Homo sapiens: one gene and its partners. The protein of the gene in region 1 purifies or fractionates together with the protein of each later gene. This does not show direct contact. Each region holds a gene or a part of one and is shown on either strand. Other genes may lie near its edges. The genes, in order: DAGLA, SLC35A5 and SEZ6L2.

Region 1 (3,651 bases):
CAACCATACACGCCTCTGCACACTGGCAGGGCAGGAAAGAAGCCCAGGGGCCCTGGGGTCCATGACGTGGGTTACCTTGTGGCCCAGCCAGGTGCCGTGGTGCCCCTCCACGGGGAGGCGCTCAGCATCACCCGTCAGGTCAGTCAGGGCATCCTTGGGGAGAGAGGAGACAGGTGAGGGGGCGGCTAAAGAGGACAGGAAGAGGGAGGCAGGCACCCCCGGGGGCTGGGAGCCATGGGCAGCGTACCTTGGGGGACAGGGTCCCCCGGATACTGATCACCACTTTCTTCTTGTCATGGTCCACCGCCACGTAGAAGGGCGTTTCATAGACCTAGGAGGCGGGCAGCTCGTGAGCCTGAGCGGCCCTGGTGGGGCCACACTCAGGGAAAGTGACCTAGGCAGGTCTCCTTCCTGGCCAGGAACTCTGGCTCCACCAGCCACGGAGCCTCTGCCGCCAGAAAGGCTGACGGGCTCCCAGGGTCACTGGGGATCTCCTCCCGATCCCAGCCACAGGCCTGCCCTGCCCTCCCCGCTCCTTGCTGGCTCTGGCAGCCCTGAGTGCCACCACTTGCCCCTGAGTCCAGGTGATGGCTGCCCCTCCCTGCTTCTGCCCTCAATTCCTTTCCCTAAAGGGCTAGGGCTCGGCAACCCAAACACTGGGTGTGGGGTTGATGTCTGCTTTCCCAGCCCCAGAGGTGGTACAGGCAAGCCAGGGTCTGGGGAAGAGAAGGGGGCCACCTCTGGTCTGCCCAGCTAGGGATGCCTGGAAGCTGCAGCCAGCCAGCACCAGCCAAGCAAGGGCTCCTGCCGGCCTGGAAGGATAGCCTCAGCACCCTAGGCCCTCAGCTGCCTGCTCCTGACACCAGGCCCCAGCCCTGCCCGGCCTCACCGCATCATGGCAGGAGGTATAGACGATGTCCACCGCAGTCATGTTCTCGTCCAGGAAGTGGCGCCGGATGGCAATGGCATTACAGCCACAGCAGTTGTCTTCCTCGATGGTGACTCCAGGGGCGAACCGCGGCCTCGCAGGACACAGGCAACACCTAGGGTGGGGTGACAAGAGAGTTCAGGGCCAGGGAGTCCCCGAGGGAACAAATGTCTCCTGCCACTGTCCCTGGAACCAGTTCCAGTTGGGCATTCAGCCCCACTGCCTCTACCAAATTGCCCTTGCTAAGTCCTAGTGACCCCCACGTCACCAAATCCACTGGCCACTCTTAGCCTTCCTCTTAACTGAGCTCTTGGCGGCACCTGACCCTGTGGGCCCTTCCCTCTCCCCACCTGGCTGGGGCCCCCTCCTCTCTGGGATCTCCCCTCCGGGCAGGGCCTACTCAGCGATGCACCCAACACTGAAGCCCTGGGGTCCCTCTGGGGGCACTGGCTCCTCCATGCACTCATGCAGTCTTGTGTTTTAGACACCATCTGCATGCTCAGGAATCCACCCCAGGCCTGCCCCAACACCCAGATGCTTCCATCCAATGGCCTAGCCAGCACCTCTCTCGGACACCTGACACCCTGCCAGCTCTCAAACCCCTTCCCTGCTTGTGTACCCCAACCCTCCTGAGGTCTTCCCAAGGCCCCTCGGTGGCTTGGCCTCTGGCTTGCAACTGTCTGTGGCTCCTCAGCCCTCACCCCCACGGCCATGCCACTCGGTCAGTACACGTACTCGGCTTCCCTTCAGACTCAGAGCTGGACTCCAGGCACTCCCTCACCTCCCCTACCCCTGCCCTGGCAGCTCTGCCTGGGACTGTCATGGTGGCCTCGACTGGCCTCCTTGCACTTGCCCCTACGCTCTCAGCTCAGCAACAGAGTGGCCCTTTTAAGATAAGTTGAGCCACATCATTTTCTTTTTAAGACCCTACAGCAACGCCCTGTCTACCCCACCTGGCTCTGGTCTCTCTGACCTGCTGCCAGCGTGTTCAGCAGCACCTGAGACAGCGTGGCCTGGCCCTTGCTCCTCTGGGCCTCTGTTCAAACGTCCTGTCACAGTGAGGTCTCTCTTGCCACCTCATCTAACAGCCAGGGCTCCCCAGGCCCCCAGCACTCCCCATCCCAGGCACCTGGCTTTATGTGGGTCCAAAGTGCCCATCCGCTCCACCATGTGCCCTATTTGCCTTGTCTATGCGCTGTCCGCCTCCTCGCTGGGCAGTGAGCACCACAGAGAGGTCCACAGCTGTATCCCCAGCACCCAAACAGGGCCAGGTACACAGTAGCCTCCCCACAGAAATGAATGAGGCAGCCTGGGAGCTGGGCACCCAGCTAGGTGCAGCGGCACCTCAGGCCACCAGAGGGAGCCAGCATCCAACTGCTAAGGCACCAGACGCTGGAGCCCACGTGACTGGGCCTGCCAGCTGTCACGGGATGACAGCTGAGATTTTATTAAGAAGCTTGGATTCTGGTGATGCTAGGAGGTTTGTCTTCACTCAGAGCATCACCTGAGTGACTATTACACACTTTCCAATGGGGAGAGACTTTGCTGAGAAAGCCACAGTGCTTGCTGGGGGGACAAAGCCGATGTACAATGGGAGAGCATGGTCCCCCACACTGCAGGTCAAGTGGTGATGGGCCAGGGTCTAGGGGCTGAGCTCCTGTGCTCGGCAGCTGTTCCCTCTCCAACCTCAGCTGAGCATGAGGCTGTAACAGTGTGGCCTTTGGAGACTGGAGGCTTGAGTTTGAACCCTTGCTGTATCACTTCCTGACCGCAAGGGCCTGGAGGTCACTCAGCCATTCTAAGCCTCAGTTTCCTCTTCTGTAAGAGCAGGTGGTGACAGCTACTTCACAAGGCTGGTGTGAGATCAAGGGTCCAAGATGCAGAAATGGTCTGGCCTATAATAGGTTCTTAATAACGAGTGGCTCCTCGCTTCTCCGGTGACAGGGCTGCCTCTGAGTCAGTGATGTGTGGGCCAGGAGGACCAGTCAGGGGAGCAGGGCCAGCACCCCGGATGGGAGGGCCCTGGGGCTCATCCAGGGCAGGGCTAGGGCCAAGCCAGAAGCAGGCCTGGCTCGCTGTGCTCTGCATGGGCTGAGAACTGCTGCCAGGGGAGAGGCCTGGGCCCGAGGCAGATGGGCAGCCCTTCTCCCTCTGGCCAGGCTGTTATGGACAGGCTGGGGCACTGGACTCTGGCCTCCTCCCAACACCCTGGGCTGCAGGCCTGCCTCTCTCTGCCCCACAGGCACCTGGTTCTTCCAGGCAGGGGCCTGGCTGGGCCCTCATGAGGTCTAGGGACTCTGCTCTCTCTGCAACACTAAGGCACCTAATACAAATGCCAGCACCCCTCCTGTCTGCAGAGCACCAGAGAGCCCTGCCTGCCAGTGATACCCTGGGTTCTGAAACACCCTATGGGCAGGCAGGACAGATACCACCTGTTACAGTTTAGGAAACAAAGGCTCTAAGAGCTGTCCCCACACCACCAGTGAGTAATGGAGCCTGGTGCTCATTTTGAAGAGTTCTCTGCCACAGCTGGGACTCCCAGGGATGCAGGCAAGAATGCCAGGCACATGCAGCTGACAAAGATGGGAAGGGGGCATGAGGTGCTCTAGTCCTCTCTGATCAGTCGCTGGAGGGATGGTGAGAATAAGGCCCCGAGAGCCACCCAGCTTTCTGAGGACAGGGAGGGCGCTGCAGAGTGGGTGTGGCTGCTGTGGGTCCCAAGG
Region 2 (3,651 bases), on another chromosome or scaffold:
CTACTTAATGTGTATCAGCTGCACCTTCAGAAATTTAAGTGGTTAGTTCACAGTTTCTCACCTGATGGCATAAGGCTGCGCTAACGCCATCAGTAAGTTCTAGATCAGGCTATTTGAAAATTACATACATATGAGAAAGCATATAATAGTGTGCACAGGTATGCTGCTATCTAGGCTAGTCTGTGCATTTAGCAGTTTCAGAGCATGAAGCTTTATATGCACACAACTTCCTATATGTGCATCCTGGAAACTTAGAATTATACTTAGGAGGTGTGATGATGCAGAAGGAAGACATACAAAACCATGGATCCGATCCCTTCTTTAGTGTTTAAGTACATGACCTTAGGGAAATCTGTTAGGTTAACTGTTTCCTCCCTTAGAGCGGAAATGCCTAAGTGTATGGTAGGTGCTCAATAAATGCTCCAATGATATAAAAATTCTCACTTCTGGTTCCCACCTATTGCTTTACACTTCTGCATTTTTTATGTTCCTCTTTTTTTCTCGGTGTTCCCCTTCTTTGCCTAACTAACTGATCTTCAAACATCAAGATTTTGTTCCCCCAAGAGGCCTCCTGACAACGCCAATGAAAGTGAGATATTCCTCTTTGTCAACATTGTACATTCTTGTTGCCTTTGCATAGAGACTCTTCCCTCTGCCTGGATATATCACCACCTCCTTTTTCACATGATAAACTTCAATTAATTTTTCATCTTCTAGCTCAAGTGTCATTTCCTCTTTGAAGCAATACCTGACTATTTACAGATTGTAGTGTTCCTCAGTTTACTCCACTTGTCCCATTAATCACTTTTCACACATACTGAAATCATTTAGTTTCATTGTTTTCTCACTGTTAAAGCATAAATTCCTTGAACATGGAGATAAGTCATCTTTATCGCCCCAGGTTGCCTGGCACGTAGTAGCTGCTTATTAAACATCTGTTGAATAGAATGAATCAGCAAAATGGAATAATAATAGTACATGTCCTTTATTTCTCACAAGTTTGTTGCTAAGGAAAATAAACAAAGGATTGTTAGGACTTTGTAAACTGAAATACTGCCCAAAATAACATTTTTCTTTGGCTTGTCAGCCAGCAGTTTGCTGTTTAATGCTCTACGATTAGGACATGGATCTAGAGCTAACCTTCTCCTTTAAATCTTTTTTGGGTTATGGACACCTTTAAAGATTTGACAAAGCTTTGCAGGATCTCCTGCATAGGGGGAAATTCATCTGTACACAACATTTCTGAAGCTCATCTACATTCTTTCTGGTTCTGGGAAACCAGGTTGAGAATCTCTGCTGTAACTTTATAGTACAATAAAAGTTACTGTGCCAGAGGTCCAGGATACCTCTAGAGGTAGAAAGGAGGCCATGTTAAACTTGTAGGTTAAAAGGAAACCTACACAGAAGGGAAATGACTTGAGCAGCCTTAGGGGATAGGTGTTATAAAAATGAATTAAAACATTAAATTTGAGAGACAGGCACCAACAGTTTTTCTCTGAACTTGAGTGGTAGGAAATGCTAGCAAAAACTGGGTCCAGTTTATTCAACCAAATACTCAAGTGTCTGAGTTTTCAGTAGAAACTATTGATATGGGGGGAAAACAGTAGTAAAATCTTTTTTTTCATCTTTGAACAGGAGGCGTCTAAACTGGATCCAGTGGGCTTCCCTCCTGACTTTATTTTTGTCTATTGTGGCCTTGACTGCCGGGACTAAAACTTTACAGCACAACTTGGCAGGACGTGGATTTCATCACGATGCCTTTTTCAGCCCTTCCAATTCCTGCCTTCTTTTCAGAAGTGAGTGTCCCAGAAAAGACAATTGTACAGCAAAGGAATGGACTTTTCCTGAAGCTAAATGGAACACCACAGCCAGAGTTTTCAGTCACATCCGTCTTGGCATGGGCCATGTTCTTATTATAGTCCAGTGTTTTATTTCTTCAATGGCTAATATCTATAATGAAAAGATACTGAAGGAAGGGAACCAGCTCACTGAAAGCATCTTCATACAGAACAGCAAACTCTATTTCTTTGGCATTCTGTTTAATGGGCTGACTCTGGGCCTTCAGAGGAGTAACCGTGATCAGATTAAGAACTGTGGATTTTTTTATGGCCACAGTGCATTTTCAGTAGCCCTTATTTTTGTAACTGCATTCCAGGGCCTTTCAGTGGCTTTCATTCTGAAGTTCCTGGATAACATGTTCCATGTCTTGATGGCCCAGGTTACCACTGTCATTATCACAACAGTGTCTGTCCTGGTCTTTGACTTCAGGCCCTCCCTGGAATTTTTCTTGGAAGCCCCATCAGTCCTTCTCTCTATATTTATTTATAATGCCAGCAAGCCTCAAGTTCCGGAATACGCACCTAGGCAAGAAAGGATCCGAGATCTAAGTGGCAATCTTTGGGAGCGTTCCAGTGGGGTAAGTTTGTGAGGGTGTTCCTTTTTGCTTGTTCTTCCCAAATTTAAAGCATAGTTAATTCAAGGAAAAAAATAAAATCAGTACTGATTTGTCAAAGAATGTATTGGATCTCTGACTTTTAAAACCGAATCAACAAACATTCCTTTTACTCCTGATGTTTGCAAGGGCTCATAATCAATGCTGTCAGGTGTAGAGAAAAAGTATAAGTCAATCTCAAGGACCTTATGTGTTACTTCATAGAATACTATAGAATTATACACCTGGAAGATACCTCACAGGTTGTCTTGTCCTGTCTGCATAGTTTTACAAGAAACAGGCAAAATGGTTTACAGATAATAAATGAAAGAACTGGTACACCTATGTCTGACTCCAAGTCCCTTTCTCTTTCTTTTCCACCATAGTTAGGGAAAATAAGCTCATTTGTGAGAGAAGTTGGCCTTTCGTATTAGTAAGTCCTGTTGAATAGAAAGCCTGGCTCCTCAGTCCTCCCTGTGGTTATTCATAAGCCAGTATGCCAGAAGGGCAGGGTTTGTTTATTTCACTAGAAAGGTAGTTTTCAAGAGGATCCTTGCAAGGCGAGTAGGAGGAAAATATTTTCTAGAAAAATGCTTATGCAATTATTCCGAATATCTCCCAGTTGCTTGCAATTGTTTTGGAAGGCTCTGTCAATCATTTTATTGGCAAGTTAATGATCTCTTTGAAGATTCAATTAAGGAGTTAAATATACGTTTAAATAAGTGAAATAGACATCTAGCTTTAGATTTACAATTTTCTTGAGCACACAAAATATGAAATATTTTATACAGTGAACATTTCACTCTTTGGGAAAAATAATCTATTGCTTAATAACATTCATAGCAGAGCTTCCCTGGGTGTAATGCCTCTGTCATGATTCAACAGATTCTAAAGATGAAAAAATTAGGATCTTGAGTTTCGGATACCCTGCTCTTAGCCAGAGTGTATATCCAGAAGTCTTGTATTCTTTTCCAACAGCCGATAATGCCATTTGCTCTAATTTTTAAGCAAAAGAAAATCTATATAGGTAACAAGGCCTATGAAGACCTATTTCTGTAACCTTTAATCATTTTTCTGCAAGACCAGCAGGTGGTGCTCCTCACTTTGCTCATGTTAGCTTTGAAATTTTGAGTACTGAGTACACTTCACTTTTTTATCCTCTCATACTTCTATAGTTAACTTTCCAAGAACATAAGTATTTATTTAATTTGACCAGATTA
Region 3 (2,597 bases), on another chromosome or scaffold:
GAAGTTGAGGAAGGAGGATTGCTTGAGGCCAGGTGTTCGAGACCAGCCCGGGCAGCGTAACAAGATCTCATTTCTACAAAAAATTTAAAAATTAGGCAGGCACCATGGCTTGCACCTGTAGTCCCAGCTACTCAGGATGCTGAGGCGGGAGGATCCCTTGAACCTAGGAGTTTGAGGTTGCAGTGAGCTGTGATGGCACCACTGCATTCCAGCCTGGCCGGCAGAGCCAGGCCCTGTCTCTAAAAAGAAAGAAATTGAAAGCTGTTTGCCTCCTGCCCAGCAGCGAGAGAAGACGGGTGGCTCCTGTCAGTTCTCTCCCATCTGGAAGAGGCCCACAATGTCAAGGAAGGCCTGGTGGAGAGGTCACTGCGTCCTGGAGTGAGGCTGGTCGCAGGGAGGCCTTCACAGAGGCTGAGCCTAAAGCCAGGCTTTTTTACCTCAGGCCAGGCCCCCGGACACTGCCCTCTGCCCACTTTCGCATTTCCTTTTTTTTTTTTTTTTTCAAATTGTTCCCCTTTCCCCAGCCCTCTCTCCAGAGAAGTGGTCCAGTGCTCGGTGACCACCTCCCCACACTCCACCGGCCCAATTACAAGTGGCGATTTTCTGTTTATTGCTCAAAAACAAGAATTCAGAAGCAAAGGTGGAGAGACTGTGGGTTGGGGAGATGGCAGGAAGGGGGCAAGGCCTTGTCCCAGCTCTCCCCTTTGTCCTTCTTCTGACCCTCCTGGCCGGAGTCAGGCCTAGGGCCAGGGCATCTGGGAGGGGGGCACCTTCGTGGCCAAGGGAACAGTAGAGCTATCGGGGGCAGTCCTTGAGGGGTGCCCTGGGCAGGAGGGGCTGCAAGATTTGCAGGGAGGCAGAGTTCCCCTCCCAGAATCCAAAAGCCGGTAGGGCGGGGGGCAGGCCCCTCGTTTGGCAACTGAGAAGAGGCGGCTTTGGGCGGCAGGATGCTGGTTTATTTACTGTAGGATCTCCAGGGCCATCAAAGCCCCCTCGTGGGATAGGGAGACTATTTACACAGCCAGGGAGGAGGGCAGCCAGGAGGCAGAGACCGGGTCCCGTATTTCCCTCTGCCCGAATGAGGAGGGGAGGGGCGTCCTGGGTCCTGCAGCTGTAGTCTTGGGGTTCAGATGGAAACTTCATACTCCCGCGTATCCTGAAGACAGAGAGATCAGGTCAGTTGTTGGAGTCTGATAGGGGTGGAAGAGGCAGCCGAATGGGAGGAGGGGCAACGATCCTGGGTTTTAAAGTAACATTGACCTCTAGGGGCTGGGGGGCCAGTGAATGTGTTTGGTTCATCCTACGGTGTCGTAAAATGACACAAAAATCTGAATTTCTGGCTTGTCTTGAATAATTGGAAGATCTGCCAATTGTGCCTCAGTTTCGACTATGGGGTAGAGCCGTATTCTTGAGATGGGGCACAAGTCCTCCACTTAGCCACAGTCCTCACCACTCCCTATTGTATACACATGGCTTGCTATGCTCATTGACATGGCCTCTGGGGGCAGCTGAGTTTGAAATTCCCAAGACAGAGATTCCAGAGACCTTGCGAGAAGGTTATGGAGTCCTGGGAGAGCCAAGTGGTGGCTCTTCAGGGGCAGGCAAGGTGCTTACCCCAGCTTCATACAGCGGGTTGCTGAAGTCCGACTCCACGGTGATGGGGCTGTAGGAGTGGGAGCCCGAGAAGCCGAAAAGGGACTTTCCCTGAAGCCTGGGAAAGGGAGAGGACAGAGGAGCTTATCAACAGGTAAGCCCCTGAGCTCCCCTGACCCAGGCTCCAGTGCCAGGCTCGCAAGACGTCTGCCCTGGCCGGCAGTCCCCAAGCAGGCTACTTACTTGGTGTAGTAGATGTAAACGCCACTGCCGAGGACAATGACCAAGCCTAGAGGCAGCAGGATGGCCAGGGCCAGGTTCCCCCCTTCCAGCTGCCGTGATGGATCTGTGGTCTGGGTCACTACAGGAGGAGGAGAGGCCGGTGAGCTGTGGCTGGGCCCGGTCCTGGGCTCTCCCAGCCTCCTGCCCTGGGCCTCAAACCCTGGGCTTCATCCCTCCAAGGCCTGGCCTCCTGCCCCAGCCTCTGCCTTGCCCTCCCAACCTGGCCAGCCTGGGTCTCCACCTGTGCTCTCACTGACCTTCCAGTTTTCGGTTGTCCAGGAGCTCCTCATAGGCAACTGCAGGGAGAGGAGGGGGAGGGGATGGGGTCTGAGCCAGGGAGGGGAGGAGGCTGGGAGGGGCCGGGAGCCCGGTGGGGCTGGGCTGGACAGCCTGGTTCTCTCTGCCCTCTGCTCAACCTCAACTTTCTCCCTTTGTGGGGAAGAGAGAGGAGTGACCAGCACAGGGCCTTTGTCCTCTTTCTCCAGACCCCTAAAAAGTCAGGGTTCCTGGACAGTCTGAGCCAAACTAGAACTTGTCAGCGATAGGGAAACTGAGGCCTATTCAGAGCAAGGGACTTCCAAGCCAAGGCCCCCTCTACTACACCCCTGAGCCAATCCCATGACCTCACACGACCCAGGGCTTCTGGACACACCCGTGAGGACACGAGGCCACAGGAGGAGAACCGGGAGCTCTGTGGGGTCGCCCATTGGTCTCAAATGTGC

What was found.
Region 2: the proteins of DAGLA (region 1) and SLC35A5 fractionate together in Homo sapiens (co-fractionation; one large-scale study listed by BioGRID). This does not show direct contact.
Region 3: the proteins of DAGLA (region 1) and SEZ6L2 fractionate together in Homo sapiens (co-fractionation; one large-scale study listed by BioGRID). This does not show direct contact.

The regions. Positions count from the first base shown.
Region 1 is NC_000011.10:61,732,241-61,735,891, reverse strand, and holds part of DAGLA (diacylglycerol lipase-alpha), read right to left. Parts: intron 1,044-3,651; coding exon 890-1,043; intron 332-889; coding exon 248-331; intron 154-247; coding exon 76-153; intron 1-75. UniProt on the Homo sapiens protein: Serine hydrolase that hydrolyzes arachidonic acid-esterified diacylglycerols (DAGs) to produce the principal endocannabinoid, 2-arachidonoylglycerol (2-AG).
Region 2 is NC_000003.12:112,578,911-112,582,561, forward strand, and holds part of SLC35A5 (UDP-sugar transporter protein SLC35A5), read left to right. Parts: intron 1-1,635; coding exon 1,636-2,416; intron 2,417-3,651. UniProt on the Homo sapiens protein: Probable UDP-sugar:UMP transmembrane antiporter involved in UDP-alpha-D-glucuronate/UDP-GlcA, UDP-GlcNAc/UDP-N-acetyl-alpha-D-glucosamine and UDP-N-acetyl-alpha-D-galactosamine/UDP-GalNAc transport from the cytosol to the lumen of the Golgi.
Region 3 is NC_000016.10:29,870,573-29,873,169, forward strand, and holds the end of SEZ6L2 (seizure 6-like protein 2 isoform 5 precursor), read right to left. Parts: intron 2,172-2,597; coding exon 2,133-2,171; intron 1,955-2,132; coding exon 1,837-1,954; intron 1,712-1,836; coding exon 1,615-1,711; intron 1,157-1,614; coding exon 1,127-1,156; 3' UTR 587-1,126; downstream 1-586. UniProt on the Homo sapiens protein: May contribute to specialized endoplasmic reticulum functions in neurons.